Linked DNA regions of Homo sapiens. The protein of the gene in region 1 interacts with the protein of each later gene in a biochemical or structural test. Each region holds a gene or a part of one and is shown in the gene's direction. Other genes may lie near its edges.

Region 1 (3,814 bases):
ATAGCCATGTTTTTAATATCTGTGCAACATTAGAATGGATTAGAAAGTGTGGAATAGCCTTTCCTGATTGGGTCATGTTTATGAAAACATCAAGTTATAAATCACTAATACTTACAGATTTAAAAATTGGTATATAGTTTAGTATGACTTCTGAATAAGAGAAAGCTGACCCTTATAATTTAAATGAATTATTTAGCTTAGTATTATTCCTGCATTTTAACAATGGCTATTTAATCTTTCTTAGGTTCTTCAAAAACAGCTTGATGATGCCAAGGAGGGAGAAATGGCCCTATTAAGCAAGCACAAAGAAGTGGAAAGTGAGCTAGCAGCTGCCAGAGAACGTTTACAACAGCAAGCTTCAGATCTTGTCCTCAAAGCTAGTATGTGTGACCACAGTTTTTGATGTAATGCTTAGCTAAAATCAACACTTTATTTATTTATTTTTTTGGAGACAGAGTCTTGCTCTGTCGCCCAGACGGGAGTGCAGTGGCTCAATCTCGGCTCATTGCAACCTCTGCCTCCTGGGTTCAAGCAATTCTCCTGCCTCAGCTTCCTGAGTAGCTGGGACTACAGGTGCCCGCCACCATGCTTGGCTAATTTTTTTGTATTTTTAGTAGAGATGGAGTTTCACCGTGTTGCCCAGGCTGGTCTCGAACTCCTGAGCTCAGGCAGTCTCCCTGCCTCAGCCTCCCAAAGTGCTGGGATTACAGGCATGAGCCACCACGCTCGGCCCCAACACTTAAATGTTAATTTAAGGTAGCATTTATTTTTTCTTCTAACATTTTAAAACTATTTAGACTGTAAATAAGTTAAAGGACTCAATATGTTACTAATTACTTATAAGATACACAAATATTTTTTATTTTTAGGAATATATTTTTATAGAAAACTTGAGAGTTTTCCTTTGTGAGGAAAAATACCAATAGCAGGTAAAATACCAATAAAGTAGTCACTAAAAGAAAAACGGGCTGGGCATGGTGGCTTACACCTATAATCTCAGCACTTTGGGAGGCCAAAGTGGGCAGATCACTTGTGGCCAGAGGTTTGAGACCAGCCTGACCAACGAGGTGAAACCACATCTCTACTAAAAATAACAAAAATTAGCTGGGCATGGTGGTACACACTTGTAATTCCAGCTACTAAGGAGGCTGAGGCATGAGAATTACTTGAACCTGGTGGCAGAGGTTGCAGTGAGCCGAGATTGCGCCAGTGCACTTCAGCCTGAGCAACAGAGCAAGGCTGTATCAAAAAAAAAAAAAAAAAAAAAAAAAGAAAGAACGAAAAATGAAGCACACTTTTCAAGAGGTGTTGTCCTTTAAAAATATACATTTTATTTTATTTTATTTTTTGAGACAAGGTCTTGTTCTGTCACCTAGACTGGAGTGCAGTGGCATGAACACAACTCACTGTAGCCTGGACTTCCTGGGCTCAAGTGATCCTCCCACTTCAGCTTCCTGAGTAGCTGGGACCACAGGCATGCACCACCTTGGCTGGCTAATTTTTTAATTTTTTGTAAAGACGGGGTCTTGCCATGTTGCCTAGGGTGACCTCAAACTCCTGGGCTCTAGCAGTTCTCCCACCTTGGCCTCCCAAAGTGCTGGGATTTCAGGTGTGAGCCACCATGCCAGCATTTATTTAGTTTTTAGAGATGGGATCTTGTTCTGTTGCTCAGGCTTGAGTGCAGTGGCCTGATCATAGCTCACTGCAGCCTAAAACTCCTGGGCTTAAGTAATCCTCTTGCCTTAGCCTTCCCAGTAGCTGGGACTCTAGGTATGCCACGGGCTAACTTTTTTAAAGATGAGGTCTCACTGAAAAAATACACATTTTAAAGTGCTCAAATTAGTTGAAGTTTGTAAATTACAGCAGTTCATTTCTTAGGGCTTGTTACTAAGGTTCATTTTTACATACTAAAGCTGACTTGCCTATTTCTCAAGTGGCTGGTATGCTTTTTCACAACCATTACTGGAGGAAGTGGGTGACTTGTGTCAGTTCTGAAGTTATATTTTGTCTAAGTGTTTAGTGTGCCCAGGAAGGCTGTTTGAGCTGGTTCTTTGAGGATCTCATTTGATTTTGATTGGCTTATCAGTGAATCTCAGATTTTCCTTCCTCTAAAATAGTTGTTTTTAATAGCCTTTAGTGCACATTGGAGTGACCTGAAGGGTTTGTGAAACTACAGATGCTGGGCCCCACCCTCAGAGTTTCTGATTCACTTTTAGGTCTGGGGTGGGTCACATTTCTAACCAGAGTTCCCAGGTGATGCTGGTGATGCTGGTCCTGGGTACTTTGAGAACCTCTGCCTTAAACTATCCTTTCTATGAGACCTTTTTCTTCACTCACTTTTCATCTCTCTGTCTCTCCTCATTTTTCTCCACCTTCCCTGCTTTTTGCTGTCATTTAAGAGATTCTTTCATAACCTTGCTGTCTTTATCTGTGTCTTACATCACCTTAGTTGTTGGTTGGTTGGTTGTTTTTATTTGGAGATGAGGTCTCGCTATGTTGCAGGACATAGTGCAGTGGCTGTTACAGGTGCAGTCATAGCTCACTGCAACCTTGAACTCCTGGGCTCAAACAATCCTCCCATCTCAACCTCCCAAGTAGCTGGAACTACAAGCTCCACTTTAGGTCTTTATCTGGCCTCTTGCCTGAAACAAATTCAATTTCAACCAAACTGCTATCTGCCATCTTTGTTTCCTACATACAAACTTCTTCCTTTTTATGTTAGAATTTGAAAATAAATTAGAAAAGAACGAATCACTCATTTTGGCGCCACAGTGTCAGTCAGTGCATCCTCTCCGTCCTTCTTTTATTCCCAGGAGACTTTCTTATGAAGCCTACTGAGGAGTTGCGCCTACTTCAACCTGTTTAGCTTGCAATCTTAAAAAAACAAAAACAAAAACAAAAAAAACCAGTAAAACGGTACGAGGTGCAGGAAGCAACATTAATCATGTGAAAATGACGTTTTAATTTAAATTATTCTAGTGCGCTAAGAAGTATTTTCATGTAAATATTTCCATTTTATGTAGTGAAGAAACAAAAGGAAAATTTGTACATGTAGACCATTTATTTTACTTAAGTATAAAGTACAGTTGTGTTATTAAATGTAAACTGTTTATCTCATAGTACAACTGATTTTTAAATTGAAGGGATTTTCTTTTTGGGGGATAGGTCATATTGGAATGCTTCAAGCAACTCAAATGACCCAGGAAGTTACAATTAAAGATTTAGAATCAGAAAAATCGAGAGTCAATGAGAGATTATCTCAACTTGAAGAGGAAAGAGCTTTTTTGCGAAGCAAAACCCAAAGTCTGGATGAAGAGCAGAAGCAACAGATTCTAGAACTGGAGAAGGTAAAAAGTAATGGACACTCCATTCCCCCCGAAAGAGTTCCGTTTTTCTCTTTTTCACATTTGAAGTATTTGGAGTATTTCTTGCTACTCCCCAGTAACAATACATTTCCTACTTTAGTAGTTATTTTTGGTTCTAATTTTGAGGAAATGGGTATATAGCTAGACTATCCTATGCTGTATGTATGTTCAAAATATGTGGGTAACAATCTATATAATATAAAAACTTTAAGACATTTCAACCTATTTCAAGCCAGAAATTGAATAAACTCTTATTTCAGTGGAGTGTATACTTATAATCATTATTCGTTTTCTATTAATGAAATATATTACTGCATATCCATGTAGGAAATTTCTGTAGAACTGAAAATATGACAAGCTTCAAGCTCTGAAAATGTATACCAAGATAATTGAATTTCTAGTTTAACAAGTGAAACATCATTTATAGAGTAATTGCTGAATATGTATTC
Region 2 (3,814 bases), on another chromosome or scaffold:
ATTGGTGTTTTGTTTTCCCTCTTACATTTTTCTGTATTTTCTACATTTTCTAATATGAATTTTTGCTTGTAAAGTCAGAAAGGGAAAAAAATTTTAAAGGAAAGCCTATTTTTCAATTCTTTGGAAAAACTGTGTTTCCGGAATTCCCTGGAGACCCCGTCAGCTAATGTAACGTTCAATTTGGCAGCAGGGATGAGCAGCGTGGGAGGAGAGGGTGGGAAAGATGGGGGACATTTATCAAGATGGGGCCCAGCCCGGCCTCTGCAGAGCTCTGCCCAGGGCCAGCGAGGAGCCCAGAATACTTAAGCAGGGTCTTTTCTCTGTCTTTCAGCTTTTTGAAAACAAGAAGAATACTAAAAGCAGGAACAGGAAAGTCACCATTTACAGTTTTACAGGAAACCAGAGAAATCGCTGTAGCACATTCAGAGTGAAAAGAAATCAGACCATCTATTGGCAGGAAGGGCTCCTGGTCACTTTTGATGGGGGCTACCTCAGGTAGGAACACCTGGAAGCCCACCTGCCAGGTCAGCAGGTGCCACAGCAGCCACCGCGGGGCCACGTCAGCAGGATGCCTCATCCTCTTGGTGTCCAGAATTTTGCTCGTGAGAGCGGCTCGTCATGGCAGCTTGCTAGAAATGTGAGGCCCTCCCACGAGTGTCCCAGAGGCTCCGGTCTCCTCACCCCTGCTGAGCCCCCCTTGCAGGACGGGAAAGGCAAAGGCAGATGTGGCGGCCACAGCTGAGGACTTGAGGGACGTGGCGGCCATTGAGCTCAGGAGAGCCTCAGGCACTTCCCATGGTTATTCAGGTCACCATGGTGACCTTGCAGCCATCCTGCCCGTCCCCTTGTTCTGTGAGAAGCCAGGCTGGGGACAGGGGATGCTGAGACTCCTCAGCCCCCATCTCCACTGCCCATAACCAGACACGGAACTCAGCTCCCTGTGCCATTTATTCTTGGTTTTTTGAGAGCGGTAGACCTAAAGTCAGCCCAACAGGTTTAACGAATGATAAACACCCAAGATTATTTTAATGTTTACAATGAACTTTGCAAAATATTCTTCAGCTCTGTGAGAGGAGAAGAAGGGAAAAGGGGAGGTAACTTTACAGAGGGCTTGATTGGCACCTGCCTCTTCCGCATAGATGTTCTCACTTAAGGCCCAGGGTTGCTGCTGGACAGATGAGCATACTGAGGTTCAGGGAGGTCTGGGAACTTCCTTAGGGCCTCACCTGAGGGTCAGCTCCCAGGCTGAGCGTCCCTGACTGCAATCTTCCTCGTGCCTCCTTCACCAGGCCAGGTCCGGGGCAAGAACAAGGCAGGGCCACGCACACGTACATACAGGGAGGAGTCCCCCATCGGTCCTGCAGGGCACAGAGTCTCTCCAGGTCCCCGGGGGTTGGTTCCTGTCCCTGGGGGTAGGGATATCATCCCAGGGTCCCCCAGAGCCAGATCGCAATGGGCTCCTTTTGGTCTCTGGATTGCAGTGTGGAATCTTCCGACGTGAACTGGAAAAAGAAGAAAAGCGGAGGAATGAAAATTGTTTGCCAATCAGAAGTGAGGGACTTCTCAGCCATGGCTTTCATCACGGACCACGTCAATTCCTTGATTGATCAGTGGTTTCCCGGTAAGAGGAGATGCTAGAAGCAAGCCCTCATTCATGCTAATATTTCTTATGAATCAGGGTGGGGCTGCTGCTTTCGGGGTGGACAAAAATCCCACTGGGATTCAGCCCAAGAAAACTAGGGGGTCTTAACAGCACTTTGGTGGGAGTCCTGGCCCCCGAGAAGTCCAGCTCTGTCACTGGGGGGAGTCCCACGGGGAGGACTGGGCTCGGACACCACTGGGAATGTGCAGGGAAGCGGCCTGCCAGCTGCCCACAGGCGTGGCAAGAAAGATGACACTGGTACCACGAGTGGTCCACGGAGATGCTCAGTGTGAGCTCACACGTGTCTTGTTTTCATAGTGAGGACTGTGTGGCTGAAATTGCAGGGGAGCCGGCAGATGGAAATTTATCCCCTGCGCAGGGGCAGGGATGGAGGGGAGCCGTGGCAGCCAAGGGGCCTTGCTCTCCTCCCCTGCCACCCCACCCATCCCGGCGGTGATCAAACCACTAACACCGCCCTTCTCAGACCCTTTGGATCTGTTTCTTCATTGATAGTTCACCCAAAAAAAGTACTCTTTGAGTGAAGTTCCTGAGGCCTCCTGTTTGTTTTGCTCCTGGGGTGGAGACGACTCCCAGAGCAGCCTGCCAGGGGGAGGCCATCTGGGGTTTAATGGGGCAAGCAGCTGTGGGAGGGGCTGCCCTGAGAGCTTCAGCCCTGAACGCTGGAGGCCAAGCAGCTGTGGGACAGGCTGCCCGAGAGCCTCAGCCCCTGAACGCTGGAGGCCAAGCAGCTGTGGGAGAGCGGGTTTGGAATTCCAGTGCCACCCCTGCAAGCCTCGGCTGGTCCCCCGGCCTCCTGGGCCGGCCTCACCTGCATGCAATGCCTGCATCCCAGACAGCATCAGGGAAGGTGGCTAAGAGGCAGTGGCAGAATGCACTCAGGATACACATTCCAGATCCCAGGGTCTGGTCTCTGTCAGGGTTGGGGTCCTTCACACTGTTGGCAGGAAGGGTGACCTACAAGGAAAAAAGGCTTAGAAAGGAGCCCTCGGAGAAGTCAGCTGGGTGTGCGTGTCATGGTGATTTGGGAGGCACTTGGCTGTCTAAGGGGGCCCTTAGGCCCATGTGAACCCTTCTGGGCACTTTGCAGCTCCCCACCAGCCAGTGTTCCCCACACAGCAGGTGCTGGGCAGTTTGACAGGTGGGTCCCTTAGACAGTCACCTGAGATGGAAAGGGCTCTGGTGAGCACCTGAGACAGATCGCCTGGAGCCAGCATCCCCAGCCAGGGGCCCCTCCCAACGGGATGCCTTACACATGGACCTGCAGATATCAGATGTGCCTGGAAAGTTCTAGGCATCCACCTCCTACCTTGCATGAAGCAGGCAGTTGGCCGGCCCTGAGGGCACCTCCACAGGGCATCTTGGAGGGTGTTTCTCTGCACCTCCTCTCAGAGGCGTGGGGGAATCCCGTGTCCGGTGACTGAGTTTCGTCTATGATAATTTGCACTCATTTCTGCCCCTGCATTGCCCTTCATGGACATTGTAAACCTGATGTTTCTAATTGTAAGAAGGGTGCCTTCCCCACTGCCGTGATGGTTGGAGGATAGCTCACACCTAGTCTGCGATGACCTGTTAGGGCCCAGTCATGCAGGAGGGATCCCCCCACTCCTCTCAGGCCCCCCAGCCAGCCTGCTCAGTGTCCCGACCACTGGACAGTTCTCGGAAGCATCCTGAACCCTCCCTGGACACATCTTTCAGGACAAACAATTGCGCTCTCCAAAAAGGCACCCGAATGTGGCAGTGGGTTTCAGCCTGTCTCTTGGGTACAGGCCAGGACAGGCAGCTCCCCTGCTGCGAAGGCCTCAGGGCCTGGGGTGCAGAGTGCTGCTCGGGGGGCCCTCCTGCACCACCTTCTTGTGAAGCTGTCTCCTGCTCTGTCCTTATTTAGCCCTGACAGCCACAGAGAGCGACGGGACGCCACTCATGGAGCAGTACGTGCCCTGCCCGGTCTGCGAGACAGCCTGGGCCCAGCACACGGACCCCAGTGAGAAATCAGAGGATGTGCAGTACTTCGACATGGAAGACTGTGTCCTGACGGCCATCGAGCGGGACTTCATCTCCTGCCCCAGACACCCGGACCTCCCCGTGCCGCTGCAGGAGCTGGTCCCTGAACTGTTCATGACCGACTTCCCGGCCAGGTATGCCCCGAAGGCC

What was found.
Region 2: the proteins of FAM184A (region 1) and LRRK1 form a complex in vitro, tested with the Homo sapiens proteins (one large-scale study listed by BioGRID).

What each region holds. Positions count from the first base shown.
Region 1 is NC_000006.12:119,019,511-119,023,324, reverse strand, and holds part of FAM184A (protein FAM184A), read left to right. Parts: intron 1-244; coding exon 245-380; intron 381-3,165; coding exon 3,166-3,347; intron 3,348-3,814.
Region 2 is NC_000015.10:101,048,163-101,051,976, forward strand, and holds part of LRRK1 (leucine-rich repeat serine/threonine-protein kinase 1), read left to right. Parts: intron 1-331; coding exon 332-495; intron 496-930; exon of another isoform or gene 931-1,481; coding exon 1,482-1,621; intron 1,622-2,471; exon of another isoform or gene 2,472-3,548; coding exon 3,549-3,798; exon of another isoform or gene 3,799-3,814.